Linked DNA regions of Homo sapiens: region 1 is linked to region 2. The links come from fine-mapping of genetic effects on gene expression. A gene starts in region 2. The other region holds a variant in brackets. All regions are shown on one strand. Distances are between the middles of the regions. Region 1 has its middle 46 kb from the start of AGA. Region 2 holds the start of AGA (aspartylglucosaminidase).

Region 1 (16,616 bases), 50 kb after region 2:
ATTTGCTGTATCTTATGTATAAGACCACTGAGCAACAAACAGAATTGTAAGATTGTCGCCTTTGCTTGACTGCCCCCTTCTCCCATTCCTGCGTAGGAGGAATGTATAAATACTGTGCCTCGTGTAGCCCACTTGGGGACACATTGTCGTTTTGCCCTGACTCTGTGTTTCCTGGGCTATCATCCTCAAACTTGGCCCAGAATAAAGCTCACTTTAAATTTCTTTAAGTTACAGTGCTTGTTATTTAACCTTTCAGTTGACACATTTGAGAGTTAGATTGAAAGGGGTTCTTCGTGGCACTTGAACCTTCCTCTGTTTTTTTCAGATTGTCAGACAGTAGGTCCTATCTCAGACCAGGCTCTCACTGCTACAGGGAGAGAAAGATTTGAAACAATGACTGTATCATAACTGGCGATCCAATGTGTGTCTGTGTGCTTCTGTGCTTTCAGATTTGTTTTTTGTGTTTCTGAAACTGCCTTTGCAAAAATTATAACTGAGGAAATGATGACAGTAAAAGAACCTAACCGACTCCATCTTGCTTCTGACCTTTAAGCTGTCCTTGTTATTCCTGGGCATAGACCAAACTAACTTCGGGAAGGAATTCAGTTCATGGTTTGACTCTGAAACAAAATGGATAATAGCTCTTTCTGGAAAAAAATTCCTTCTTGCCTGGGAACCAGTCTGCCTTTGCAGGATTAACAAATTAGCTACAAGATTAGAAATTACAGTTCAGCGGTCACGCAGCCTCTGGCTCCAAGAGTCTGAACCTCCCCAAATTGCTCCTGGGGATACCATCACTATTGTCAAACCTGGGATCAGTAATTGAGATAATTTGCTGATTCTGCACCCCTCAGTGGATCAGCTGACACCACCCAGACCCGTAATTCGGCTGAAATGGTTCTGCCACCCCACCCAGGAAGAGGAAACAGCAAGAAAAACTCGCTTTGACTCCCTGTGTTTCCATCTCCAACCTGACCAATCAGCACTCCCTACTTCCCAAGCCCCTACTCGCCAAATTATCTTCAAAAACTCTGATCCCAGAATGCTCTGGGAGACTGATTTGAGTAATAATAAAACTCCGCTCTCCCGCACAGCTGGCTCTGAATGAATTACTCTTTCTCCACTGCAAGTTCCCTGTCTTGATAAACGGGCTCTGTCCAGGCTGTGGGCAAGGTGAACCTGTTGGGTCGTTACATTTCAAGGTGGTGAAAAAAAGCTTATCTTATTCAAAGCATTTTGAGTATACAGAACTCCTAGAAGTCTCTGACCATCTGGTGAAGTTTAGTTGTTGTTTTTTTTATTTCCATATATGTTTTATAATAGTTTAATATTATTTTTTAAATGTTCAACTTTCCTGTTTTTCCTGGTGAATCATGTTTATCTTCTTACCACAGTGAGATAATTTAAGTCTCAGTGAAAATGCTATCCGTATATTTAAGGTAAGGATACAACCCTCAGAACTTTGTGAGTCAGATGAAGGAATTGCTTACAGAGGTAAGATTAAAAAGGAAACTAGGTGATTCTTTATACAGGGTAGGCAGAAAGTGACAGCTGGGTGTGAAATTTGAGCTCTTTGCCTTATGGATTAAATCACTGTCTTGTGTGATATTAGGATATCATTATGAGCTAACACATAAAACAAGGTTTTTTTGTGGTTAAGCTACTGGCTTTCTTAATTTTTCACAAAATGGAAACTAAAGCCAATGTCTCTGAAATGCTACAATGAATCATGACTTCTACTAGATAAGAGTGCAGAGTACTTAATCTGTTGATTTTTTCAGTCAGATGGGAAGTTCTGAATCATTTTCAACACTGTGTTAAATATGTTTTTCTTTAATTAATTAATTAATTAATTTTTGAGACAGAGTCTCACTCTGTCACCCAGGCTGGAGTGCAATGGCCAGATCTCGGTTCACTGCAACCTCCGCCTCCTGGGTTCAAGCAATTCTCTTGCCTCAGCCTCCTGAGTATCTGGGATTACAGATGCACGCCACCACGCCCAGCTAATTTTTGTATTTTTAGTAGAGACAGGGTTTCACCATGTTGGCCAGGCTGGTCTCGAACTCCTGACCTCAAGTGATCCACCCGCCTCCGCCTCCCAAAGTGCTGAGATTATAGGCTTGAGCCACCGTGCCTGGCCTTTTCTTATTATTGAAAGAAAAATTCTTGTAAATATAAATATCAGCCCCTAAATCTCATTTAGCTGATTACTAGTGTTTCAATGAAAATGCCACATTCTCAGTTGAGAATTTCTGTTTTTCCTTCCTCTTGGTATTTATTTGGCCTGTAACTAAGGGAGGAGACCACCCCTCATAGAGTCTTATGCCCAATTTGTGCCTCCGAAGAAAGAAGAAGTAAAAACTAAAAGGCAGAAATGAAATCCATAGGAAGACAGCGCAGTGCCGCGCCCTGGGCCTGGTTAAAGATCGACCCTTGACCTAATCAATTATGTTATCTATAGATTACAGGCATCGTATGGAAAAGCATTGTGAAAATTCCTGTCCTGTTCTGTTCCCTTCTGATTTCCGGTGCATGCAGCCCCCAGTCATGTACCCACTGCTTGCTCAATCGATCACGACCCTCTCACGCAGACCCCCTTAGAGTTGTAAGCCCTTAAAAGGGACAGGAATTGCTCACTCAGAGAGCTCTGTTTTTGGAGACATGAGTCTTGCCGGCGAAGCCCCTGGCTGACCGAATAAAGCCCTTCCTTCTTTAACTCGGTGTCTGAGGGGTTTTGTCTGTGGCTTGTCCTGCTACATAACAATTAAATGGATGTGAATCAGCTCTGCAGGTCTTCATCTTTCTTCACCTCAGTACTTGAGCATTTCCAGAATAAAAGCCTTTCCTAATCATTCTCAAGATATCTTCCTATTTGCAATGCAATCTCCTCAATCAAAGGAACAAGCAACAGAGTCTTTCCTGGAAGCATGCGGAGAGTGTATAAGAATCTTCCTGCTTTAGGTTTAGTGAACAGGAAAGGGTGACCATATTGGTTGAGTAGGAAAACAAAAACACAGCAAGAAAGCCACAGTACTTCCTGTGATGTTAGAAACATCCATGTAAAGAAATAATGTAGATAAATAGGGAAATGAAAGACTTGCCAACACTAAGTCACTTTTTCTATGTGTTAACAGGCATTCTCCCTAAATACAGCCTGCTCTGTCCTTCACAAACACACCCCAGGCTCTGAGTAACCAGGTTTGATCAGCGAGATGAATTGGGAAAGCCCTAGGGCCACAGAAGGAAACAGACAGTTATCTACAGCGAGGTAGATTACGCCTCCAACTTGCAAATGCGGAGCCCTTTCCTAGGTCAACTCCTGTGCTAACAGCAGTTGTTAGGTCTTTGATTTTTCCTTCTGGAAATCTGCTTCTGCAGAAAATGTGAAATGAGCAGAATTGTAGAAACAGGAGAGGGAGGAGGGTGAATATAAGGATGGCTTGTGTTAGAAATAATACTAGAAAAATATCACATATGTCCTTCTTGGGGTTGATGGTGAGAGAAATATATGCATTTTTTTCCAGAATATATTTATTAGAAGTCTGCCTAGGTTCAGAAAGGCAGACTAATCTGAAACTCAATGTGACCTAAATCATCTGAGATTTGATGTGGCTCATATTTTATAGAACCTAGCCCAATTACTAAATAGAAGAGTTTTATTACCTGAAATTGCCCTCATAAAATTAGTACTTGTATTTATTTATTTATTTTGAGACAGAGTCTTGCTCTGTCACCCAGGCTGGAGTGCAGTGGCGCTATCTCGGCTCACTGCAAGTTCCGCCTCCCGGATTCACGCCATTCTCTTGCCTCAGCCTCCCGAGTAGCTGGGACTACAGTCGCCGACCACCATGCCCGGCTAATTTTTTGTATTTTTCAGTAGAGACAGGGTTTCACCGTGTTAGCCAGGATGGTCTTGATCTCCTGACCTCGTGATCCGCCTGCCTCAACCTCCCAAAGTGCTGGGATTACAGGTGTGAGCCACCGCTCCCGGCCAGTACTTCCTTTTAAAATGTGAGAATCAGCAGGTGTGCATTCTCCCTGCACCCCTATCATTATTTTCTTTGTATTTATCAGTGTGAAATATGCATAATCTATGTTACACACATATGTGTATATGCATAACACGGTTGTAAACAAATATTCCCCACAAATTGCTGGAGGCTGTGTGATGTGGTGGGAGGGACTGAAGGGAAGATGGTCTGTGGACTGGATGAACTGCTGAAAAATCCAACAGTTACCAGGAATGATTCTCTCTATACTCAGAAAAACACCCTGATATGGTTAGTTCTCTCCAAATCTCATGATGAAATGGAAAAGAAAAAAAGAAGGAAATGGAATCACCAGTGTTGGAGGTGGGAGGCAGTGGGTCACGGGGGCAGATCCCTCATGAATAGCTTGGCCCATCCCCTTGGTGATATCTGTGCTCTCGCTCTGAGTTCATGCAGGGTCTGGTTGTTTAAAAGAGTGTGGCATCTCCCTCCTCTCTCTCTTGCTCCTGCTCTTGCAGTGTGACATGCCTGCTCCCACTTTGCCTTCTGCCATGAGTAAAAGCTCTTTGAGGCCTCACTGGGAGCTGAGCAGATGCTGGTGCCACGCTTATTGCACAGGCTGCAGAACCATGAGCCAGTTAAACCTCTTTTCTTTTTCAGTTACCCAGTCTCAGGTATTTCTTTCTAGCAATGCAAAAAATGGCCTAACACAACCCCAAATCTCAAATAAGGAGAAGCAATAGCATTAGAAGGAGGAAACCACAGTTACTGTGAGAGAAGAATGAAAGATTCTTCTTCCTTCCTCGTCAAGCCATGAGGATTTCACCTATCATCTGTGGGTTTTGAGAAAGCAAACTTGGCCAGCACTCTGCTGAGAACAGTTGCTAACTGCCAAGAAAACTGCACATACCAATGGAAACTGTGGCCTAAAAGAGTAGAACAATAGATCCATTCTCTCTTTGATTATTTCTTGATTTTCCCCGTGTCTCAGACACTGTTCTAGGCCCAGGGATACAACTCTAAAGAAATAGGCAAGACTCCCAAATCTCATGTGCTGGAGGGAGAAAGGAGAAAATTATCAATAAGCAAATAAACCACTAAGATCATTTCAGGCTGACTGATGGGGTATAGATGCAGCTTTAGACTGGTGATCAGAGAGGTTCTCTCTGAGGTGGTAACTTTGACTTGCAATCCTGAATATTGGAGTGGCACCAGGCATGGAATATATGGGGTCTGATACTTTGCAGTGAATATTAACTAGCAAAATTGGCCCATAATTATCACAACCATCTTTATACCTACAGAGTTTAAAAATGACACACTATGAAAGCACCTCTGAGAGTTCTGGCAACTCCCATGCAAATGCTGCATTAAATACAATGCAGTGTATCCCCTAGGCATTATTTGAACTTTTTATAAAATCCATGCAGCTACCACTCACACCACTCAAATATGCCATACTCATACAGGCATATTTCTTCTGTTAAGATCATCACCATCCCCTTTGGCCCTTTCAAACTCTCTTGGCACTCTCAATGTTTAGAAGGGGTGTTAATTTGAAGAAAAAAACCTTGAGTTATGTAAGAATTTTCTTCTCTTTTCTTTTCTTTTCTTTTCTTTTGAGACGAGGTCTCGCTCTGTTGCCAGGCTGGAATGCAGTGCGTGATCTCGGCTCACTGCCTCCTGGGTTCAAGCAATTCTTGTGCCTCAGCCTCCTTAGTAGCTGGGATTACAGGCACGCACCACCACACCCAGCCGATTTTTGTATTTTTAGTAGAGATGGGGTTTCGCTATGTTGGCCAGGATGGTCTTGATCTCCTGACATCATGATCCGTCCACCTCAGCCTCCCAAAGTGCTAAGATTACAGATGTGAGCCACCGTGCCTGTCCTATGTAAGAATTGTCTTAGACAAAGAATATATACTACTACATGATTGTCTTAGCAGGGACAATGTTTTTTCTTGTCCCTGATTCAAAACCATTTTGTGTTGCTTTGTGTTAGCTTTAAAATAGCAGATATATAAGTGATAATAAAAATGCTGTATTTCTACTCTCAGAGTACTTCCATCGTAAATAACTTCCTTGTAGTATGAATACTCATTCCTGAAGCTTACTCTTGTGTGTAGGTAGGGTAGATGTTCATCAATGTATTATGAATGAACAATTTCAAGAACAGCAGTCAAACATTTTTATTTATTATGGTTTCTAGCAATTGCTACATTCTCAAAATTTTTATTTCTTTCCCACTTAATGGAAGTTGACATTAAGTCTCAGATGGGTGACACTAAAGCTTTTTATACCCGGTGCAAATGAATCTCACTCTTTTCCTAGGATTTGGTATTGGCGAGGGCAAGAATAAAAGTAGAAAAATACTGTGTTTGTGGCAAGGAGTGAGAAGAAATAGGAAATGGAAGGCCTGAGAATTAGTTACCCCCAAAGAGAAAAACTCATGTAGAACAGGGAGACTGTGTTGTCAAAAAAATGTATATTCTCATTGGTCTCCAGACAGCTGGGGCAGAAACATTTCTCTAAAAATAGTGTGTTGACATAGGAAATTATTAACATCTCTGGTAGATCATTCTATTTACTCAGAAGATGTAATGGACTTTCTTGAACAAACAGCATTTATTCCATGAGAACTATAATAAGACATTCTTCTTGCCCTCTAGGGGCTTATAATCAAGGGGAAGGGTGGGCAGTATAGAGGAAACTAATGTTGGGAATCAATTTTCTGGGTCTGTTACATTTCTTCATGTCTTACGGACAGAGGTGCAGAGGTACAGACCACCTTTGTTTTGGGGTATCTTTCTAAGGATGTTTGTTTAGTGAACAGACTTGGAAGACAGTAAAGGGAGCTGCCTCTGGAGCAAAGGACAGGTTTGTTTGTGGTTTAGAATAATAAATTAATGTCTCCAGGCAAAATTTAGTAAGGTTTACTTCTTATTATAAAGGATTTGGGCTTCGTGAGTTCAGGGTTCCTCTCCACAGGGCAACCCACTGCACATGCAGGCGTTACCTGGCCTTCTTTGTGTCTCCCTTGGGAACTGGAGTTTAGAGAACTGGGACAAATGCTGATATTCCAGCTACTGCTATATCTTTGTGTAATAAAGTCCTTTGTCTCTGACCCAGGAGTTTCATGTCTTCTGCCAGCATTCATGAATCTGATAGGTAAACATGTTAGCTTACTTTTGGATAAAATCTCAGATGCTCCACAATTCTTGACAACCAACATGCTGCCCATTTTTTATTTCAAACACAGTAGATAACTAATGATAAAATAAGGTTGACGATAAGCCATTAATAGAAGTATAAGCAAATTATCATGAAGGTATATCTGAAGACAGATCATTTTGATCGGAGAACATATGGGAAGACCTAGAAAGCAGAATTTGAATGGGGCCTTGAAGGAAGGGTAGGACTTCAACAGTTGGAGTATCAGGTAATGGCATTACTAGTAGTGGGAACAGTTTGAGTAAAGTCTAAGGACATGTTAGGCAAGGAGAGACTGGTTATATTGGTGGGTAGGGTCAGGAGAAAAGAAATGGAGCAACAAGCCTTGAAAAAGGGACAGCATCCAACTCTCTGGGGGGACTGTGTAATGTTTTTGCATTTTTTCTTCCTTGGAATCATGGAAGTTTTTTGTGTGTTTTTTTACAAGAAACTTTTACAATCTAAGTACTTTGTACGGAAGAAGTGGCTTTGGTGCTAGAAAAAAATAGCACTTAAATAATTTCTACCCTTCAAAACTGAGAGTTGTCATCGTCTTAAATTCTGGACAAAGGTAGTTTTGTTTTTTCTTGATTGCCCTAATAAGGAGGAAGAATACACACTAGCACTGTAGATTCACTGCATTGTTCAACACCAACTTGCATGCAAGGTAGGTAGTATGGTGGTATCACTGGGACAATAAGAATCCAGAACATTTTCTCTCTGTCCAATGTAATCTATGACTCTAGAAAATGAAAAATACTTGTCTTGGCAAAGAAGCACAACTTCCCATTCTGAGCAGCTGCTCAGACCTTTGAGACTTATTCAAGGGGGCATCCCAATAACGTTGCACAGCAAGTCTCTAGTCTCTTCCTTGCACAGAAAAACAAATCCAGCTAAATATGCACATAATTTCCAGAAATACAGTCTGAAGAATGTGGCCTTCATTTCTTGAAAGGCCTTAGTAAATGTCAGTGATCTAAAAAGTAGACTCCAATGCCACATCAAGGACCATGCTTGCTAGAAACAGCTCATTTACAATTTGAGGAAAAGAGTCAGAAATGAAATGTAGGAATATAGCTTTTTAGACATCTTAGCAGTTGATTCTTGATAGGATGGATGTTTAAAAGTTCTAGCATTAATGATATTTACAATAGCACAATATGAAAGCATCAAGGTCACTTCCCAAATGTTCTTTCACTATGTTGCTTTCCAGAAGGGTAAATATGACAGAGTGTCTAGAAGCTGCCTAACAGTGGTTTTATCATAAATTCTGAATGATAAATGACTTTCAGACAGTCCTAAGCATCCCACAATGGGCTCTAATAGTACTGAGAGAAAATTTTACGATGAATACAAATCACCCCTAAAGCCCGTAATACATCATGCTGAGTAATATCACAATAAGAATGGGAAAGAAAATGAAACTTTAAATAGGCATATGCTTTTATGTACTTTGACTTGAATTTGTATTCTTTCCACCCACTCCCTCAATCTAACAATAAATATTACTCTGGAAAATAAGAAAACACCTTAAACATTTCTTGGAAAATTTGATTTGTAAAAAAAAACACAAAATCTGTACTATAAGAGATTAACATTACAATTTTTCTTATTGGTTAAATCGAGAATAATGATAATGCTTCCACATGCTCCCTTTTGAAAAGAGTTTTACATGTATTCTCATTTGAACTTTATAATAACTTAAAATAATAGACATTCCCATTTTATAGACAAAGGAATCAGCACATTTAAATGACACTTTGGCTAGCTCACAGGTTAATGAATGATAAAACCAGGAGTAGGAACTTCCGTCTCTTGAAAATTGAATAACAGTCTTACCAACTACCTAAGGGGTAGGAACTTCGGTCTCTTGAAAATTGAATATTAGTCTTACCAACTACCTAAGTTCAACATAAAATAATTTTGGGACCACTGTTATAGTAAATATTGCTGTGTAAAAAGTGATCCCTTAACTTGGAGGTGTTTTGTTTGATGTTGCTCAGGAGTATTAAATAATTTGTGGCTTTTATTTCTCAACCATCACTATCCCTAACGTCATTTTCCCCTCTGCTTTCATTTGAGCCAAATATAATACTT[A/G]TTAATATATCTGACCTGAGTTTATGATAAATTTCCTAATAAAACTCAAACACCAAACCCAATCCATTCCTTTGGAGGTAAGATAAACTCTGTGTGATTCCATCTCTTAAAAAATCTGCTTAATTTGCTTTTGTGTTCAAAATAAAACAATTTTGATTAAGAAACTGCCATTCTATGATTAGTGAAGCCCACATAGAATAACAGCAGAAGGAAAGTGGTGATTCCAAAGGGAAGAGAAAACCGAATCACCTCACTTCTCAAGTAAGTGAACTCAGTGCTTTCTGTGCAAATTTTATTTTCTGTGCAAATGACAAGAAAGATAAAGGAGTAAATGTCTGTGAAGTTTATAAAATGGTTATTTTTTTCACTTAATGGCAGTTTGGTACCTTTTTTAAAAGCTGCTTGGGAAGAAAGTAGATCACCTGGTTGGATTGAAAACATTCTAACTAATGGTACTAGGCAGTGAATTATAATATTGTCTTCTCAGTATGCTCTATGGCCAGAATGGTATGCACACACACATTACTCTGTATCAGTTATTTTTTAAATTCAGGTGACCTGCTTATAACTGATAGATGGGAAAAAGTACAATTAAATGTAAGATATTTAATTTGGTCTTATGCAATAGCTTACATTTGTGTTCCATGTTAAAGTTTTTCAAGTGTTTTCCCAGATTTGATTCTTTTGATCCTAACAACCACCTTGGGAGGTAGATAGAATCACTATTTGTAATTCACATTTTGCTGATAACAAATGAGGTTTGTAAAGGCTGAATGGCTTGCCTACCAAGCTCCTAAAAGTAGGCAGAAGGAGAACTAGAATCAAGACCTGCTTTATCCAGTGGCTTCTCTATTTATTTTTTGAGGAGTCTGGCTCTGTCACCCAGGATGGAGTGCAGCGGTGCGATCTTGGCTCACTGCCTCCTGAGTTCAAGGAAGCAGTGAGCCTCCTTGACCTCTGCCTCCTGGGTTCCAGCAATTCTCCCACCTCAGCCTCTGGAGTAGCTGGGATTACAGGCTTTTGGCACCATGCCTGGCTAATTTTTTTGTATTTTTAGTAGAGATGGGGTTTCGCCTTGTTGGCCAGGCAGGTCTTGAACTCCTGACCTCAAGTGATCCACCCGCCTCGGTCTCCCAAAGTGCTGGGATTACAGGCATGAGCCACCGTGCTCAGCCTCCAGTGCTTATTCTATCAATCTGCAAACGCAGGAAGAGCAACAGGACAGTACAAAAGAGGAATCTTGTAAGTTCAGGTATTTGGCCAGAATAGGCCTGAGCGTATTTAAAAATCCAGGTTATTAGGAGAACCCAAGGTGTTTCAGGAAAGAAAATATGTGGCAGAAAAAAAAGTAGAGGGAAAAAAGCATTAGTTCAGGATTTGAATAGTATGCAATTAACCAGTGATATGCTTTAAAATCTCCCTTTAGCCTTTATTTGTGTGGCATACAATGACCAGACCAAGCCACTCTTATTTTTCCTCTAGCATTCTCTGGAGCTAATTAATTAATAGATATCTTCTGTCAGTTCTTCTCAAGTTCAGCAGGTTATTTGAAGCATTAACCCTCATAGGCTTTGAGAAAGAAAAGAAACAGTCTGCAAGACATAATTGCAAATGTGTAAAATTATGCCAGTGAAAGGTAATATGTAAAAATGAAATAGCTGAGCTAGGACTATTGGGAGACACTCTGGTTTTTTAAAAGACGTTGTTAACATTTGTATTTTCAGTTTTAAAATAAACCTGACTGATTCCTCAAAGCCTAGCTTTGAGTAAAATGATGATATAGAGAACATGGAGACAGTGAAGATATAGTAATACCTGCACTGCTGCCTAGAGGATTGTGAATTTTACTCTACTTTTTGTTTTGTGATCATTTACAAGCTAGTGATGAAAGGAGATTTTACATGGCTCTAAAGTTGATTCTTGTAGAGTGTAAGTTTGAATCCACAAACCCCCATATACTAAAAAATGTTGTTTACTTGAAGACAAATTAGTCTCTGAGCCCCCTTCTAACTTGCCTAATGGGGAATTCAATCTCCATCACGGTGAGTGCCCTTCTAGTTTAGGGTCCTCAACGTTCTTTGGGCAGGGAGAGACTCACCCAGAGTAGCCTAGATGGGGACAGTCCTCCTATGACCAGCCCACCTATATGCCTTACACGTGTTCATGTTCAGACCCACGTATCCTCTGAGGTTCAGGTTTGTTACTCCTGTGCCCCTCACAGCCTGGGACAAAGCTGAGACCCTCTAACTGGAGTACAGTCCACCGAGCTCACACTGCAGCAGTTTCCTTCTAGAGCACTGTGCTCAAAGGCCCTGGTCTCCCTGCCTTCTGCTCTAGTACAGACCCCTAGAGGAGCTCAGGATTCTTGAAAACAAAGATCACGAGAAAGAGTTCACCACAAACCACACTTACTCCCCGCCTTCCTTCTGCATGAAGCTTCCCTCGTGCACAGCGGCACAAAGGCCTAGCTACGTGCTTGGTCAAGTCAGAGAGAAGCAAGAGGAAAGCAACAATTCAAATCCATATAGCTATAAATTATGCAGCCAGAATAATTTTCATCTCTTGGCCCTCTAGAAAAGCAGATATGGGGTCACCAAAAATGCAGGATCTGGCCATTTCTTTCCCAATATTCCCTTTCTTCATTTTTACAGCTTTAAAATGGAAATGATCTCTGAAGGGGTTAAGCCTCATCCATTCGCTGGTGTGAATATTCTAGTTAGATGAACATCCTTCTTAATTACCAAATTAGAGATATTTGATTGGGATGGGTGGAAGGAGGAGAGATGGGATGGAGGTCAGGACTAAAGGGGGCAACCCACAGGCAGAATGGGAGAGTGGGGAAGCATTGGCTAGCAGAGGACAAACAGGAGGGCTGCAAATAGTGGTGGTTTGGAAGGTGGTAAACCTTTGATTTCCCCAACTCACGGCCTCTCTCTTAATCCAGACCACCCTAGCCCAGCTTTGTGTTTTCCCGCATCTTTCCTACTAAAAATACAAAAAACTAGCCAGGAGTGGTGGCAGGTGCCTGTAATCCCAGCTACTTGGGAGGCTGAGGCAGGGGAATTGCTTGAACCCAGGAGGTGGAGATTGCAGTGAGCTGAGATTGCACCACTGCACTCCAGCCTGGGCAACAGAGCAAGCCTCCATCTCAATAATAATAATAATAATAATAATACTATAGCATGCTTTTTTCCCTGAGATTGATCAAGAGACTCAGATACAAGCATATACAGTAGTTACTCAGAATTTCAAGGGATATAATGGTAGGGGAGACCTCTAGATGACAATTACAAGGAAGAAAACAGATTTTTTTATATAACTTACCTTCTAGCTAATTCTCCCACATTAACTAGGGCAAGAAATTCTGAAATACAAATGTGTATCATAGGAGAGATTATAGAAATGCAAATGATTAGAACTAAAGTAATGATGACTGAGGGATATGATTTCCTTGCTGGGTACAAACGTGTCACAGCACTATAGGAGAGACCCAGGGAACAGCTGTTATGTGACTAAGGAGGTATTAGCGGCATAGACAAAGGTACATGTGCTTGGTTACTCAACTTTAAAAAACAAACTATGACAAAACGCTGGAATTGTAAAGCAGAGTCAATAATCAGCAGGAAATCTGTACACTCTTTGAAAACAACCCGGAGCAAACTCAGGAAAAGTGTGTGCTATGAATCAAAAAGAAAGATTGTGTAACACCTTGCCTTTGCTGCCACCCTCCACTCTCATCTTTCTTCTGCCCACCTTTCTGCCTTCCGCTACCGCTTTTTTTCTTTTCCCATCACTACCCCCCTCCAACTTCCTATACAGAGAAACTCACAGATAGCAGTTAACTGGCAAGTAATATAGGCTAGTATTATCAAAAACATATCTTTTCAAAGATGGTAAGTTTTTCCAGATGAAAACAAGACAAAGAAAACCCACATATATTGTGGCAGGTTAGGAACAATCTAGGAATTTAGAAAGCCAGAGATAATTCAAACTGAACCTACTGGCATTCTTTTATTCTTCTCGTCTTTGTTTCCCTTATCTATCTCTCTTTGCAACCGAATTGCCCCAAATCTAAATTGTGAAGACTGCAACTTCTGGAGCATCTCCTATAAGCCAAAATAAATGTATTTCCTTTGATGCTTGAAGCAACAAATAAGATAGATATTACAACCTTTATCTTGAAAATGAAAGCACTAAAGCTCAAAGACCTTCAGTGATTTGCCCAGGGCCACCGAGCTGGCAAGTGGGCGGCAGTGGATCTTACCCCATATTTGTCTGCATTCCATTCATCACAGCCCACGGTTCCCCCCAGCAGACCTCATTGCCTCTTATCCATGTTATTGCAAGAGCTTTCCTGCTTTCAGTCTCATATTTTTCTTTCAACCCAGCCCTCACAGTACTTACAATATAATTTGCCCAATCAAAGCTTTCCTGTCTGAAATAAGTTGGGACATCTATTTGATCTGTACTTTCAGAAGAATATGGTGGACGGGAAAGGGGTCATAAGGAGTGCAATTACAGAAATCAAGAGAAAGCAGAGGCAGTGAATGACAATTGACTAACTGAATTAGGACTCTGGAAAGTTGAAGTGGAGAAGAGATGCGACAGAAGCCAAAAATGTTAGAAGGAAGGGAAGGGAGTGAAGAGATGTGGCAGTGAGCCGGCAAAATGCCATGCAGGTGAAAGGGGTGACGAATGAGGGAAACTTTAAAGGTCTAAAAGGAAGAGCAGCTAATAGGATGTATATAAAACTTCTAGAAAAGTCTACCATTTTGAGATAGTAAGTGTAAAAAACATAAATGACTTCAGGTTGGCTTTGGACACATTTATAGATCATAGTCTTATAAAATACTATTAATGGAAGCCTCTGATATTTGGAATAAACTTTAATTTTTCTGAGGTGAATATCATCAAGAACAGTTATCCTTTCTTTTTTAGAGGACACTTTGCAGCTATAGTCAGAGATAGAGTTACAGGCAGAATGGTTGAGAATCTCACCCTATGGGGAAAGGCAGCGTAGCTCAATTCTGTCTATGACTCTGCCACTGACTTACGTGGTCAGTTTACATGTTCTTTCTAAGCCTGAGGTTTAATATCTGCAAAATGAGGGGAATGATAATTTCTGCCTCAGAGAATGGTTATGAGAACTAAAAAAATATATATGTATGGGCTTGGCACAGTGTTTAGGACATGGTAAGCATTTACATGCTTACCATTTGAATATGTAACAATTGAATAATTGTTGAGTATCTGTGAGCCTTCCCTATGATTTTGAAGTAAGGAAGAAAAGCAAGGAAGCAGGTAAGGAAGAAAAAAGAGAGAAAGACAGTAAAGAAGAAAGGGAGGAAGGGAGGGAGGGAAGGAGGGAAAAGAAAGGGAGGGAAAAGGGATTTAAAAAAAAACTGGAAATAAGGCAGGAGATTTCAAACAAGAAATTTGTAGTGTAAGGAAAGTAAAACAAACTGAACATCAAAATTGCTCGGTAAACATGAAAACTGGATGTGAAAAATTAAATTAATAGAAATGATTGAAACAGAAAGTAACCAAATAATCTGACAAGTTAATGTGTCATTAGGTAACAATTTGCAAGGAAGAAAAGACAATAAAATGAAAAAAAAATGTGCAGATGTAACATATTCCCCAAGATATTCCCAAAGTGACACTAGGCACTGTCAAAGATAAAAGCCTAGTGAGCTTGAATTTACACAGCTTAGACATTCCAGCCTAGTGGTCCAATAAGAAAACAGGAAGGCGAGGACTGCAATTAGATATAAAGGTGGTTATGGAAAGAAGCACCATGCTTGGACTGGTTTAATATTGCCTCACTATTTCATAACATTCTCATGTGTAGTTACTTTAAATAACATATTTGAAACAATGGTAATAAAAAGGAAAGTGAAAATAATATTAATAAATAAAAGAAAAGCAGATATTATGAAGTCAGTTAAACATCAGGCCTGACCTTTTACTATTTGTCCGAAAGCATCGGGAGAGTTAATTTAGCCAATTTTAATGGAAACTTTAACTGCTTCATGCTCAATAAGGCTATGAAGTTGTTCCCTGTGGCAGCTCTGAAAGACAACTGTGGAAAACCAGTTATGCCTGAGACATTTATTTCCAGCCATTTCCTTTGCCTGCCTGAAATTCTTCTTCATGTCATCAATCTCTCGATATACTCTTAAAAAATCATTATCCTCTTCTTCTGACCTGGAGGAATTCTCTTTCTCTTTCAGACTCTGAAAGAGAGCAGTCACTCTTTCGTGTTATATCGACAATTTGGTAACAGCTGAGAACTACAATCTCTATGAAGGGAGAAAAATACCTTTTCCCCCATCCCCAAATTCTTATCTTAAATTCCACATAGTAAAGTGTTCAAATGATATTTTGTGAATAGTTTTATCACGGGGCATAGTTTTATCAACCAGGCTGGAGGCTAGTGAACTGTGGCCCGTGAACTGGATACAGATTGTTGACACCAGCTCTCTTAGTGTCATTAGTCATCCGAGAGTCTTGGCCATTTTTATTTCTTTAAGGGAAGAGTTTGCTCAGATATGAGAGGGTTAGCATCAAAAAATAATAGGTTGTCTTGATAAGTGTTTTAGGTTTTTCATAGGAAACGATGTTATAAACAGAAAACCTTTCTTTCTCTTTCTTTTTTTGAGATGGAGTCTCGCTCTGTTGCCAGGCTGGAGTGCAGTGGCGCAATCTCAGCTCACTGCAACCTCTGCCTCCCGGGTTCAAGCGATTCTCCTGCCTCAGCCTCCCGAGTAGCTGGGACCACAGTCATGTGCCACCATGCCCAGTTAATTTTTGTATTTTTAGTAGAGTTGGGGTTTCACCATGTTGGCCAGGATGGTCTCAATGTCTAGACCTGGTATGATCTGCCCACCTTGGCCTCCCAAAGTGCTGGGATTACAGGCATGAGCCACTGCTCCTGGCCAGGAAACCTTATTTTTATTATACTTACTATTAACCTTTGCTTCATGGTCTAATTTTCATCAGGAAATTCTGTCACTCATATAGAGAGAGCTATTTTGTCATTTATAGAAACAAGTTTAACTCTTTGTCCATATGATGCCAGACTATCCTACCAAGTAAAATTCAAAATCTAGCAAAGTGCTATGTGGGAGGAGCAATGTAATAAATTGCAATATGATTTTCTGTACCTTCTTATTAGAAAATATAAGAAAAATGTATATTCTTTTCCAACAACAAGTTCATATATTAATTAATAATCATTTTAAGGCCGGGCACCGTGACTCACCCCTGTAATCCCAGCATTTTGGGAGGCCTAGGTGAACAGATCACTTGAGTCTAGGT
Region 2 (15,638 bases):
TTCGAGAGTCAAATGGACTTCCTAGCATTCAACCCCAGATTTACGCAGCAAGGCAAGACAAAGCAGAGGCAAAGAACACAGTCCCTGTAAGCAGCTCCGGATCAACAGGAACAAGGTCAAAGATGAGGCTGGCATGCCCGGTTTTGTCTTTCAAAATTTATCAATCAAAGAAGCCACTCAAAGCAAAGGAATAGAAAGACAGTGGTTCACTGAATACCCTCGACATGAAAGGAAATATAAGGAGTGTCTTCCTCTAACATTCCTCAGCTTTTCTTCTTATTCCAGATGACTTAAACATTAACGCTTGGTCAGTCAGGGATATGGCTCTCCTCTTTGGAGGAAGATATCATAATCAAGCAGGAGAGTCCTACTCCTACTTTCATGAAGCTACTCTCTCAATACCAGCAATCACTTCTGTGAGTATTTTCCTGAGTCCACTGTGAACAATATAGATTTCAGTCTCATAAGGCTCAGAAAGCTGCTAGAGTACTACATTCATTAAATCAACTCCAAGGTCACTCTGTACCCAAGGCCGAAAATGTATTCCTCATCCTAAACTATGTCCAGTCACATTGTTCAACATAACTAGGTAAAGTTCGGTGCTTCACTTACTCTACTCTACACCACATATCCAAGCCATCACCAAGCCCTGTAGGTTCTTCCTTCAAAACCACTTCTTGGCCAGGCGGTGGCTCACGCCTGTAATCCCAGCATTCTGGGAGGCCAGGGCGGGCGGATCACCTGTGGTCAGGAGTTCCAGTCCAGCCTGGCCAACATGGCGAAACCCTGTCTCTACTAAAACTATAAAAATTAGTCAGGCATGGTGGTGGGCGCCTGTAATCCCAGCTACTCAGTAGGCTGAGGCAGAAGAATCGCATGAACCAGGGAGGCAGAGGTTGCAGTGAGCCGAGATCGTGCCACTGTACTCCAGCCTGGGCTATAAGAGCAAAACTTCATCTCAAACAAAAACAACGACAACAAAAATAAAAAAACAACAAAACAAAAAAAATCCACTTCTCATCACCTCACCATGAGCATCGCACCTCAGCAATTCCATTATGCTGCTTCAATTTCCTCCATGAGTTCTAAACTCTTACTATGCATTTGTTTAGTAGCTTAGGTAAGTTCCATCAGAGTAGGAATTTTGTCTGTTTTATTCACTACTATATCCACAACACCTAAAAACATGCCTGATACATGGTAGGCAACCAATAAATACTTGTGAAAAGAAAAGGGAAAGGAGAGGAGAGCAGAGGAAGGGAGGGGAGGGGAGAGCAGGGGAGGGGAGGGGAGAGCAGGGGAGGGGAGGGGAGGGGAGAGTAGGGAAGGGGAGAGGAAAAAGTAAAAGAGAAGGGAGGAAGGAAGAGGCAGGGAGGGAAAAAGAAGTAAGGAAAAAAGGAAGGCAAATGAAAAGCAACAATTGTTAGGGTTTCTAAGGCTAAGTCACCCTTATATTGCAAGACACCCTCTTCAATTTGTGGTTGAACCTACCTTTGAAGCCTAGAATACAATGTTAGTGGTATATGAAAAGGGCTGTTATCATTTATTACAAACTCCTTATTTTCCAACTCCAGCCTGCACTTTGTCATTATCAGCAATACCAATAGATTTCCCATCAACCAACTAGACTCCCTCTACAGTAAGGGATAACCCTCACTTTTAGTGTTATAACTTAGGTGTTTTAAAATGATACTGAAGAAAGGCAAAAGACTGTGATTAACTAGGATTCAGCAATGTTAGGCTACTTGATTCAAATGGACCCCCATTCATGTTTCACAATCTTTTTTGTTCAGTTATTGCCCATCTTCATAAGACTTTCCATAATAAATCTTTTAAAATGCTTCACCAATTTCTAGTCACCAATTCGATTTCAAATCTGTTGTAATCTTGGCAGGTGATTTTTACTACTCTTAGAGAAGATCAAGATTAGCAGGCATTAATCCCCCATGTTCCTTTAATCTCTTATTCTGAAAAATAACCATCTTTTTCTCCCAGATGGAGAACTGTCATTTTCCTTTCTATCTCTCCTTGAGCACCACAGTCATAATTCTGATGTTGAATGAGGCTTCTTTGGTCCTTGAGATCTAAATAAGATAGGTTTAGACTCTGAATTTATTCTCTTCTGAAGTCCAAAGTCCTTTAAAACGTTTCTAGACATTTACATAGGTCTTAAATTTTCAAGCTCACCTAAGTATCTGAGCTTCTGTTTCTGCATGTGCTATTCCCATTATATACCATGTGGGGTTTGGGGGCTTTTTTGTTTGTTTTTTGAAACATAGTCTCGTTCTATTGCCTACACTGGAGTGCAGTGGCCTGATCTGAGCTCACGGCAACCTCTGACACATGGCAGCCAATAAATACTTTTGAAAAGAAAAGGGAGAGGAGAGGAGAGGAAAGGAGAGGCGGGGAGAGGAGGGGTGGGGAGGGGAGAGGCTGAAGCAATTCTCCTGCTTCAGCCTCCTGAGTAGCTGTGATTACTGGCATGCACCACCATACCCAGCTAATTTTTTGTATTTTTAGAAGACACGGGTTTCGCCATGTTGGCCATGCTGGTCTCGAACTCCTGGCCTCAAGTGATCTGCCTGGTCTGGCCTCACAAAGTGCTGGGATTACAGGCGTGAGCCACTGCTCCCGGCCCCACTGTATACTATGTTGATCCGGAAGCGAAATCCAGATCCTTCAAAATTTTTTGAAAAAAAGAAAGCAATATTGTTGAGTACTGGAGACTTCATTGAAAAGGCCAGGTGGCATCGTTCTGATGATGAGAATAAAGCAGTATTCTACTGGGAGTGTCTGAGAAGGCTTTTGCTTTCTGGATGAAAAGGGAAAGATGTGGCTGATACCAGGTCCTTGTCCTTTTCCCCAGCTTGAATGTGGATGTATGTCTGGAGCAACAGTAGCTGTCTTGTGAAAACAAAGCAGCAAGTAAGTTCTCACAGTTTAGAGCTACTGAACCAATGCCAGCAACTTTCTTATTAGGTGCAAAAAAGTAAAGCCTTGTCGCTTTAAATCACCATTAAGTTTTCTGTTATTTGCAACCGAAAGCACTTAAAGCTAATACAAAATTGCAGAGTTACCATGATCATAACTCTAAACCTATGAAATTCAAGGGGTTTAATGATTTATGAGTTGGGTGCGGTGGTACATACCTGTTAGTCGCAGCTGAGGCAGGAGGATCGCTTGAGTCCAGGAGTTCCAGGCTGCAGTGAGCTATCATTGTACCTTTGAATAGCCACTGCACCCAGCCTGGGAAACACAGCGAGACCTGGCATTAAAAAAAAACATTTTTAAGCTGTGCCTTTATTCTAAGGGCCATCCAGTAATAAGGGAACCTAAACTACTGAGTGTCCTCAGAGCTCTGGGTGCAATTAAAAGTTAGTGGTTTCACAGCTACCCAATTCTGTGGTTAGTAGAAAATTATAAAGATGATAGGAGGATCAAAAAGCCTCTTCCACAGAAGCTACATTAGCTGGGTGTGGTGGCCCATGCCTGGGATTCCAGCTGCTCAGGAGGGTGAGGTGGAAGGGTTGCTTGAACCCAAGAGGCAGAGGATGCACTGCCAATCCTCTCAATCTTGAGCCAAGATTGGACCACTGCATTCCAGCCTGGGCAACAGAGCAAGACACTGTCTCAAGCCCCTCTGATATGAGGGGCTTCCTCATATCAGAGTTCTTATGATACCATTCTCTCAAACCACCTGACTCCCTGAATTTGTCCTGAATTTGGAGAACTGCTTAATCTCTAAATCTGCCCTCTTGAGAAACCTTAGTGTTAGTAACAGACAGCGCTAACTCTGCTTTGTCAGAGTCCTGAATTCCTAATACTGACCTTCACTCATGATCTAGCGTGATGCTATTTTAATTGCTACTGACTATCATATAAACTCAACATAGTATCTGACAGATTAATTCTGAAAAAATTCTTCGTATACAAAGCCAAAAATTTTTACAGCAACAGAAATCAATGGTTAAGTAATTTCTGTGCATCATAAATAGATTTTATACATCCTTTAAAATTACATTGTATCTGCACATGGAATTTTTTTTCAGAGACAAGGTCTCACTGTGTTGCCCCAGGCTGGAGGGCCGTGGTGCAAACAGCTCATTCTAGTTTTGAAACACTGAGCTTGAGCAATCCTCCTGCCTCAGCCTTCCATTTAATAGCTGGGACTACAGGCAGCAGTTGCCACCACAAAGTTAACTTAAAAAAATTTTTTTTTAGAAACAGAGTCTAGCTGCATTGCTCAGGCTGGTCTCTAACTCCTGGCCTCAAGCAATCCTCATGCCTCAGCCTTCCCAGTAACTAGGATTACAGACATGCACCACCACACCCAGGTGCACATGGATGTTTACAGCAGCTTTATTCATAATTCCCAAAACTTGGAAGCAGCCAAGATGTCCTTCAGTAGGAGAATGAATAAACTGTGATACATCCAGACAATGGAATATTATTCAGCGCTTAAATAAAATGAGCTATCAAGCCATGAAAAGACATGGAGGAACCTTAAATGCGTATTACAAAGTGAAAGAAGCCAATCTAAAAAAGTCTCCATACTGCACAATTCCAACTAAATGACCTTCCAGAAAAGGCAAAAACCATGGAGACAGTAAAAAGGTCAGTTGGTTGCCATGAGTTAGAGGGGAGGGAGGGATGAATAGATGGAGTAGAGGATTCTTGCAATACTCTAATGGAATATATGCCAGTATACATTTGTCAAACCCACAGAATGTATAATACCAAGTGTGAACCTTAATATGAATTATGGATGTGGAATGATAATGATGTGTACAATTTGTTCATCAACTGTAACAAATGTGCCATGAGGTCACGAGATCAAGACCACCGCTAACGCAGTGAAACCCTGTCTCTACTAAAAATACAAAAAATTAGCTGGGCCTGGTGGTGGGTGCCTGTAGTCCCAGCTACTCGGGCGGCTGAGGCAGGAGGATGGCGTGAACCCAGGAGGCGGAGCTTGCAGTGAGCCGAGATGGCGCCACTGCACTCCAGCCTGGGCAACACAGCAAGATTCCGTCTCAAAAAAAAAAAAATATGAACTATGGATGTGGAATGATAATGATGTGTAGAATTTGTTCATCAAGTGTAACAAATGTGCCACTCTGGTGGGAAGGCTATCATGTGTGGGGGCAGGGGTATATTTTGTACTTTCTGCTCAATTTTGCTGTGAACCAAAAATTGTTCTTAAGAAATAAAGTCTTCAACTTAAATGTAAGACCTGAAACTATAAAAATTCTAGAATAAAATCATAAAATCTAGGAAAAACTCTTTTGGACATTGGTCTAGGCAAAGAACTTATCACTAGGTCCTCAAAAGGAAATGTGACAAAACCAAAAATAGACTAATGGGACTTCATTAAACCTAAAGGCTTCTGCACAGCAAAAGAAGTAATCAACAGAGTAAACACACAACCTTCAGAATGGGAGAAAATATTTGGAAACAATGCATCTGGCAAAGGACTAATATCCAGAATTTAGGAAGAAATCAAACAATACAATGACAAAAACAACAAATAACCCCATTAAAGAGTAGGCAAAGACATGAACACATATTTTTCAAAAGAAGACATACAAGTGGCAAACAACCATATGAAAAAAATGTTCAGCATCAGTAATCATCAGAAAAATGCAATTTAAAACCACAATGAGATACCATCTCATACCAGTCAGAATGGCTATTACTAAAAAAGCAAGAAACAGCAGATGTTGGCAAGGATGTGTAGAAAAAGAAACACTTATACACAGTTGGTGGGAATGTAAATTAGTATAATCTCTATGGAAAACAGCATGGAGATTTCTCAAAGAACTAAAAATAGATCTACCCTTCGATCCAGCAATCCCACTACTGGGTATCTAACCAAAGGGAAAGAAAGCATTTTATCAAAAAGACACCTGCACTCAAATGTTTATCACAACACTATTCACAATAGCAAAGTCATGGAATCAACCTAAATGTCCATCAGCAAACAACTGGATTAAAAATGTGATATATGTATATATACACACACACACCATGGAATACTACTCATCCATAAAAATGAATGAAATCATGTCGTTTGCAGCAATGTTAATGGAACCGAAGGCCATTATCCTTAGTGAAATAACTCAGAAACAGAAAGTAAAAAACTGGATGTTTTCATTCGTAAGTGGGAGCTAAACAATGAGTACACACAGACATTTAGAGTGGAATAACAGAAGACTCCAAAAGGTAGGAGGGAAGGAGGGGGTGAGGAATGAAATACTACCTTTTGGGTGCAATGTATCCTGTTTGGGTGATGGGTACACTAAAAGCCCAGACGTCACCGTTACTCAATATATACATATAACACAACTACACTTATACCCCGTATCTATAAAAATAAAAAATTAAATAAAATTTTTTTAAATCTTCAGAGAACATGTTATAGAGGTCCTTAGCGGTTTTCTGGGGTACTGACAATATTCTGTTTGTTTATATAAGTGGTGATTACATAGCTGTTCATTTTCTACAAAATTATTTAATCTATTTATTTACATTTTATGTCCTTTACTGTATTTACATTGCACAATGAAGGTTTTTAAAAAGCATAAATTTTAATGATATGCAGAGGTCAAAGAGATATTAAATAAAAAAGCAGGTTCTACAACAGTGTGTATAATACCAAGATTTTTCACCAAACAGATACATATCAAAATGTTAAGAGGCTGGTGATTTTCAACAAGAGCTAGAGTATTTCAGAGATATTTGAAGGACACAAAAGTGTTTCTAAAAAATGAAAAAAATAAGCTATGTTATGTGAAAATCTTTCCTTTCATATTTTTATATGAATGATTGAGAATTAACAGACTATTTGTGTAGCTACACACAGGATACATGTGTTCATTATTTGGATAGTTTTCTAATACTCATTGTCATGATCGACAAGTAGATATCATTTTAAATGCATAATGTACTTCCTGTAAGTCACTGTTAGTTTAGAAGTTTGCTTTTATTGTTGAATTTCTTTATTGAAATCATCTGTCACACTACCTTAACAATGTCAAAGTCATTTTTTAAGTGGTAGGAAGACATCCTGACATCTACTCTGTTGCCCTAAGGCTTTACTATTGTAATGGATCACATTTATGATGACATCATAATGTTATAAACAACTGTCACAAAAAGCAAGATCCACCATGTTTAATAGTCTACTATGTCCTTGTTATGAAAACTATATCACAGCAGTGGCCCAGTATTACAATTACACATTGAAAATATGTTGTACATAATTTATTTTGATAAGAAATAACTTAATAGGCCCACATTCTACTGCACAATCTTGGTCTTTATAAGTCACTAAGATGACTTTTAAAGGTTAAAAAGTCAAAAAAGTTTGTGATTAGAATCTGCTATTGATTTGACAAATGGTTTTGGGGGCATGACCCAGAAAAATTATTTCAGAAGAGAAGAATGCTCTCTTTTCTCATTTAGAGAATAAGAGGATGACACTTATTTCTGTATAATGACTCTAATTACATCCAGAATGTACAATCAGGTAGTAACATCAAATGTTCCCAGATTAATGTAGACATTGATTTAAATTAGAAACACAGTACCACAATGCTCTAACATCAGCAAAAATCATTACTTACAGTTTATGAAACTGACAGGAGCAAATGCCAATCAAGTAAATAGCCTATATTTAGATAACCTAGGTAATAGTTCAGTGGGGAGTTTTGAAAAAGAAATTATCATTTCAATGCCAAGTCAGGCTTACAGCTTTGAACAAGTAGCAAAACATGGACATGTTTCTCAAATGGATTTCACAGCATCAGTGCAAAAGCCGGAGGGGATGGCTTAGTTTTTTAAGCCTCAGAATTGAAATACCTAGACTCCCTGCAACTACAGCATTAAATCCTCTGTGGAACCACAGCTTCAAATGCTATCAGGAGGGACTCAACTCTTCATCCTTCTGAGACTGATAAATTGAAAGCCATGAAGTTTAGAGGAAATAAGAGAGCCTGCAGCGGTCTGAAACTCCTCCACCCACCTCCAACACACACACATACACAAACACAAACACACAAAGGCTCTATTTGCAACATCACTTAAGATTCCATTTGAGGCTTTCCCCTTGTTAAGACTTAAGGGTGTTGTTTTTAAGACATCCAGAAATCTCACAGTCCTGCCATGCACCATCTTTATAAGCATTCAAACCAAATTTCAGGCAGCTCCAAGTAAACTAAAAACATTATTTTTAATTCTCATTTAATATATTCAAGGAAATTCTAAGTGATTACTTTCAAATGCATTATAGGTATTGGGCCAACTCTTTATTCTTCCTGTGGAAATTTCTGTGTCTCAAATTGATCAAATTGATTTCTTTTTACTGCCTTGTATGTTTCTGGACTGCCTCCTTGACATCAATTATAGGTACTTGGGAATGGCAAATTAGAATAAGAGAATTTTATTTAATTTGCCTGGTATTACACCATTCTCCCACATCTCCTACCTCATTCACAAAGCTTTGTAAAATAAGAAAGAATACTATTATTATCTCCATTTTATAGATGAGAAAAGCATGGCTTAGGAAGCTTACATGAGTTAACCACAGCTGATACACAGTCACCTTTTTTTAATTTTTTTTTTAATAGAGACAGGAATCTCGCTATGTTGCCCAGGCTGGTCTCAAACTCTTGGGCTCAAGCCATCCACCCACCTCAGCCTCCCAAAGTGCCAGGATTATGGACATGAGCCACTAGGCCTGGCCACACCCTAAGTTTTAAAATCTAAGTCTGGAAAATCCTCCTGAAGTATTGCTAGTTATAAGTAAGCTCTACTTAGGAACAGAAACATTTTGCCAAACAAAATTGTGTAATGCATTCTAAATTTAAATAAAAATACTTTTACAAATAGTTCCTTTGATTTATCAGTAACACTAAATATCTCTGCCCTGTGTATAATGATTTAAAAGAATGAAAAATTGGAGAGGATGCTGGAAAAACTGAGGATCATTTATTTTACGGTCTACTACTGAAACAGGAAAAGTTCCCTTGTCGCCCTTGCAGGGCGTGTGATGGGGGTGTGGCTCGCTTCTTCAGTGTCCTGCTGCTCAAACCTCTATAGGGGCATACAGACGGGCAGATTGTGAGGCTCTGACCCCACAGCAGTGTCTAGGTGTGAATGTTTACAGCTGAAGCCCCAGTGGGCATGTGTTACAGGGTGCTCTTTTAGTTTAACCGTCTGTAGGCGGCTTGTGTTAGCTCAATTAGACCCCTGCCTTATCGCAAAGACAGAGGGCTTTCTGTATCCCGGGTTCTTACCTTGGTGTACGGGAAGAATTGGATCACACGTGGGCTTGAAGAATGAGTGGAAAGTTTTATTGAGTGGAAGTAGCTCTCGGCAGACGGGGGAACCAGAAGGGAGACGGTTTTCTCCTGGAGTCAGGTATGGCGGCCTGACTCTTCTCTGACCTCCCGCGACAAACTCTGCATTCTTCCGCTGGTCAATGGCCTGCCAGCATGCCGGTGTGCTCCTATGCTGGTGCGTTCCTTTCGACATCCAGCAGCCCCTGTATTCTCTGCCTATATGCTCCTCTCAATGTCCAGCTGCTTGTGCGTCTGCCTGCCAGGGTCTCGGGGGTTTTTAAAGGCACAGGATGAGGGCATGGCAGGCCAGGGTGGTCTTGGGAAATGCAACATCCGGGCAGGAAAACAAAAATGCCTGTCTTCACCTAGGTAGGCCCAGGCCCAGGGATGAAGCCCTAGCTGGGGACCACGCCCTCCTCTACCCAGCACTTCCCGCCCCCCTTCCTTATCATTTAAAGGGACCACGCCCTTCCCTTCCCAGCATTCCCTTCCCAGCACTTTCCTGCGGCATCACTACCTGTTAACAGGTGTTCCTTTTCGTTTAGATTTACCTCAAAACAACGGCGAAGGATCTAATTATATTTAGGCCCAAAAGAGCACCTAAGTGAGAGTAACAGAAGGTTACTTCTAGAACTAAAATGAAAATTATTCTTCAAGTGTTAGTCAAAGGAAAACTACTCCAGAAGGAACCAAATATCCAGACGAATTTAACTTAAGAAACAGCTACAATTTAGGCAAACTGGACAGTGGATCCAGTAGGTATTTTAGTAGCCACTAAGAAGACACTGAATCGGGTAGATTCTATAGGGATTGCATATTAGTTATTTAAATACAAATATCCGGCTGGGCACGGTGGCTCACACCTGTAATCCCAGCATTTTGGGAGGTCGGGGGGGTGGGGGCGGTGGGTGGATCACCTGTGTCAGGAGTTCAAGACCAACCTGGCCAAAATGGCAAAACCTGTCTCTACTTAAAATACAAAAATTAGCCGGGCATGGTAGTAGGCAGTAGCAATCCCAGCTACTCAGGAGGCTGGGGCAAGAGAATCGCTTGAATGCAGGAGGTGGAGGTTGCAGTGAGCTGAGATTACACCAGTGAACTCCAGCCTGGGCGATAGAGCAAGACTCCATCTCAAAAAATAAATACATACATACATACATACATACAAATATCCATGGAAAAGTTGATATATTGAGACCTTCTATCAGCCATTCCCACTATAGTGTAATTTAGCTGTTTCTCTGACAGGAATTTTTATTTAAGAAGAAAGAATTTGGAGAAATAGACATAGTAGGAGGTAACAGATCAGGCTCTTTCCACCAGAAGAAACACAAATACCTTAAAAAACAGGAAGAGGCTAGAGAGATCAGTGGGGTACTAAGACCAATTTTCCATGTATTGTATTTTACAATTTTTGCTAAAGGCATGTCCTAATTCCTTAAGGCTGCATAAAAATACTCAGCCCAGGAGCTAAGGAAAATTTACTCAGAGGACAATGTATGTTTTTCTGGCTTTCTTACCCTGTTTCACCCAAGTTTCCAGTTTCACCTGCCATTGGGTTATGATTACTCCAGCACAGATGACTTGTTCCTCTTCCAAACCCCATGAAAGGAACTTAGAAAATTTGTCTTTATTATATCTTTTAATTAACACTTCCCCAACGGGATAATGATACTTCTGGGCTATCTTATGTTCTTTAAATTATGTATTTAATTTCCTAGCAATCAATAAGAGCCTTGAAGGTTTTGTAAGTCTCACAACTCCTACCTAGTTTATATTTTTACATTTATTTATTTATTTATTTTTGAGACAGAATCTCACTCTGTTGTCCAGGCTGGAGTGAAGTGGTGCGATCTCGGCTCACCACAATCTCCACCTCCCGGCTTCAAGCAATTCTGCCTCAGCCTCCCAAGTAGTTGGGACTACAGGCATGCACCACCACGCCCGGCTAATTTTTGTATTTTTAGTAGAGACGGGTTTCACTATGTTGGCCAGGCTGGTCTCGAACTCCTGACCTCGTGATCCACCCACCTCAGCATCCCAAAGTGTTGGGATTACAGGCGTGAGCCATCGTGCCCAGCCTAGTTCATATTTTTAAAGTTTGTATAGATTTATAGATGCTTTTAAAAATTATGTGATTATGTGTCTTGCCTTGGCAACCTGGGCAGGCATTCCAGACACCCAAAGGGATTATTAGTTCATGTTCGCACGTCTGCCCAGCAACAAAACTGAGCAGCCTCCACCAAGCACGTAAAATCCCCATTCCTCCTCTTATTCATTTATTTAGCACTTAATAGTGCCAGGCAGGAAGGTAAAAATACATTTAAAAAGGAATGGAGGTAGCCGTCTTGCCCTGGAGGTGCAGGAAGCTGCACTTCAGTGTGCTAGGTAGAGGGTACATAGGCCGTTTCTGTTTTTCTTCCAGCTCAGGGATTTATAATGAGAGGAAGTGCTACAAAAAGCTGTGGTGCGAAAATGACGGACGCTATGAATGGAAAAAAAATCTAAAATCAATCCGGTCCTAAGCAAACACGCTTCACCTACACTCATAACTATTGCAGACCTCCGAGGCCTGGGATCCCCAAGAATATACTGAGTTTGACAAACTTTTCAACTTCAACTTTAAATTAAAAAGACAGTAAAAGAACCAAATCCATAGTACACAGCAATCGGCTAAAGTTCCTGGGGCCCTGCAACCCAGAGTTGAATAATTTTGTATTAAATTCCCAATATCAAGCTAAATCTATTTTAACCACAGGAAAAGCAGCAACTTGTCTGGCTATTTTAAAAATCTGAACAGCACTTAGGAAGAAGCACCTTAGCGCAGGGAACAGCTCAGTGCCCCGTGACACAACTCTCCCGCGGGCCCAGGGACGCCTCGTCTCGCGAGAGTTGAGGGACGCCTGAGCGAACCCCCGAGAGAGCGGGCGTGGGCGCCAGGCGGGCGGGGCACTGGGGATTAATTGTTCGGCGATCGCTGGCTGCCGGGACTTTTCTCGCGCTGGTCTCTTCGGTGGTCAGGGATGGCGCGGAAGTCGAACTTGCCTGTGCTTCTCGTGCCGTTTCTGCTCTGCCAGGCCCTAGTGCGCTGCTCCAGCCCTCTGCCCCTGGTCGTCAACACTTGGCCCTTTAAGAATGCAACCGAAGCAGGTGCGGGTTGGCGGCCTGGGCGGGCGGCTGCGCCGCGAGAGCTTGCGGGTGGGGATGACTAGCCCGCCCCGCTGCAGTCACCCGGCAGGGCGGACGGAAGAGCGCCGGGCTGGGCCGGGCCTCGCGGTCCCGCCCTCTAGGTCTTCCCGAGTCTCCAGCGCCGCTCAGTCTCTTGCAAGTGGCCTTTACTGCATCCTCCCCACCTACCGCTGTTGCATTTTAGGTCCTCCCTTCATGCAGCCCCCAGCGCAATGTATTTTCCACCCTGCTGCTGACCATAGTTATGGCCTTTGTGCTTTAATCAAGTAGCAGCTACGCTTTTCTGCCTGACAGTCTTTTCACGGGCTGTGTACGTCTCCACCTCTCGTTTCTAATCCTTCACTTCTTTGCAATTTTGTAGACGACTAATAGTGTCCCAGCCATAGCCTACTCTTTTCCCATTTACTTTTTTTGCCACGTGTTGTCATACTTTACCTGCCACTTAGAATTCAAGGTTCCAACCTTTGCTGTACATTCACACTATCTGGGGAGCTTCTCAAAAATCATCCTGCCGGGGCCCACCTCCTGTGACTGTGATCTAACTGCTGGAATCAGGGCCACTGTTTTTCTTTAAAAAGCTCCCTAGGTGATTTCGATTTGCAGACAGGGTTGAGAACCACTAAGCTAAGGTATCACCTCTTCCAGGAAGCGTTCCCTGACTTAACTGCCCTCGTGTCCAGAATGAGTTAGGTTCCTGCCTTCTACACCTTGTTAATAGCCTTTACGTACCATTATCTTGGCATTTTCGCATTGTACTATGCTTGTTTCTTTCATTTGCTTAATGACCAGAAGAGTCATTTTCAGACCCCTCCTCCTCCATCTGAGGTTGCTAACGTATTAACTTTCTAGGGCAGAATTGGCTCCAGAATTTGGTGGCAGTGCATACGATTCAGAGAAAATGAAGAAGCAGGCTGTGAGAAAGATATTCCCAGCCATAATGAGACGAAAAGAAATTGCATCAGCCTGGGCGGGGGACAGTTCTGTGTTTAAGTTGCCTGTATTGAAAGAGGGAACTTGCGTAAATACACTTTCAAGCCTGTAGGTGCTGTAGTGTTTACCAACCAGAGCACCCACTCTTCAAGGAATTCTGTTGTTACCAGAAAAGAAATTGTCCATCAAAGACCCTTCCCCCCACACCCCCAAATGTATGGGATCCTGGCTCTGCTACTTACCAGCTGTGTGACCTTAAACTAACTGCCTGACCTGTGGCTCTGTTTACTTTTCTTTAAAATGAGGGTCGTGATTGTACAGTACCTACCACAGAAGCTGTTATGAAGACTCAATGAACTAATCCATATGAAGTCCACGTTGTAATTGTTTGCTGTTCAGTATTATTAAGACTTCCTGGGATAGGTGTTACCTCAATACACATATCAATTATGCATATTTTAATCTAATGATGCAGAAGAAATGTGTGAAGAAGGCTGCGGTTTAGTGGATTTTTTATTTAACTGCCTTTTAGTGGTTTCGATTGTACCTTTTAAAATAAAGGAGGGGATACTGATTTCGTTTCTCGCACACAGAAGAGATAGATATTAGTAAGTGAAAAAAAAAAAAACCTTCAGCTTGCACCAATAGCCAGTTTTTTGAGTTCTTCTGATAACTAGTTAAATAATTTTGACTCTTCACTGACTCCTTTGTAACACTTGATAAACTAATGTGTTAAAAAATCAGCTTAACTCAGTAAATGTGAAAAAGTTGTTAAATTGGAGTTGGTTTGTTGCATTTGGCATTGAAAAAAAAATATATATATAAACAAGCATTATTGGGATTTGATTAACAGCGTGGAGGGCATTAGCATCTGGAGGCTCTGCCCTGGATGCAGTGGAGAGCGGCTGTGCCATGTGTGAGAGAGAGCAGTGTGACGGCTCTGTAGGCTTTGGAGGAAGTCCTGATGAACTTGGAGAAACCACACTAGATGCCATGATCATGGATGGGTAAGAACACCGTTCAGGTCCTATTTATTATGTTGAGTTACATTTAGAGTTGTGGTCTTCTGAGAGCAAGATGAAAGAATGCATGAGTTTTGACACAGATCAAAACCCCTAGCTTATTATACTTGACCTTTCTAAACACAGTTTCCCTCTCAACTGAAAAAAAAAAATCAGAGTAATAGAAATATCACATGGAGAGATAGGTAGTCCCTTAGAACTGGGAGAATGCCAAGCTAAAAAACTATGTCTCTGACCTTATAAACAATCATTTATCTGCTGTCCACAAATGCTGTGGTTTGCCTGACCTGAAGCCTTCAGGCCCCTTTCAAAAGCCATATTTAAAATTAGCTTGGAGAAACTGAGAATTTTAGTGCTGTTGTGGTACATGGCAAGTTGATTTTCTATTTTTTTTCCTTAATTTTGTCTGATTGTGGGAATCTATATGAACTTCGTGGATGTGCTGTCACTTCTGTGTTAAGATGGTGGAGTTTAACCGCAAAACACTATTGATTGGAGAAAAGCAATGTTTTTAATCTATGAACCTCTGAAAACTCCTTAATTCCTAACTGCATTCTATTTTCTTGCAGCACTACTATGGATGTAGGAGCAGTAGGAGATCTCAGACGAATTAAAAATGCTATTGGTGTGGCACGGAAAGTACTGGAACATACAACACACACACTTTTAGTAGGAGAGTCAGGTATTTTTTTAACTACACTGAAATTTTTTCTAGTCTTTTGACTATAGTTTTCACTGAAAAATAGTACAAAATCATGGATAAAACCAGATCTAAGTTCAAATTCCAGCTGTTTTACTTAACATCTATTGAACTGGATAAGTAACTTTTAAATCTCTTTACTTCTTCATCTCTAAGAAGAAGGCAATGGAAGTTTTGAGACGGAGTTTCGCTCTTGTCACCCAGGCTGGAGTGCAATGGCGCGATCTCAGCTCCCGACAACCTCTGCCTCCTGGGTTCAAGTGATTCTCCTACCTCAGCCTTCCAAGTAGCTGGGATTACAGGCACGTGCCACCATGCCCAGCTAATTTTTATATTTTTAGTAGAGACGGGGTTTCACCATGTTGGCCAGGATGGTCTCAATCTCTTGACTTCGTGATCCACCCGCCTCAGCCTCCCAAAGTGCTGGGATTACAGGTGTGAGCCACCGCGCCTGGC

What was found. PIP is the estimated chance that this variant, and not a neighbour inherited with it, causes the effect.
Region 1: its variant is fine-mapped to the expression of AGA in whole blood (TOPMed, PIP above 0.99). The same link has a PIP of 0.9 or more in CD4 T cells.

The regions. Positions count from the first base shown.
Region 1 is chr4:177,388,451-177,405,066 of GRCh38, reverse strand. No RefSeq gene overlaps it. Among named protein-coding and RNA genes, the nearest start is that of AGA, 46 kb to the left of the region's middle. RefSeq lists a silencer at 11,638-11,697. The variant A/G (reference allele first, on the strand shown) is at 9,297.
Region 2 is chr4:177,439,102-177,454,739 of GRCh38, reverse strand. It overlaps AGA (aspartylglucosaminidase), which reads left to right and starts at 12,303. Exons shown (of 9, transcript NM_000027.4): 1 at 12,303-12,491; 2 at 14,314-14,467; 3 at 15,052-15,164. The coding sequence starts at 12,365. AGA-DT (AGA divergent transcript) reads right to left here and starts at 9,730. Exons shown (of 4, transcript NR_183779.1): 1 at 9,297-9,730. RefSeq lists enhancers at 11,638-11,717, 11,808-12,351, 13,178-13,257.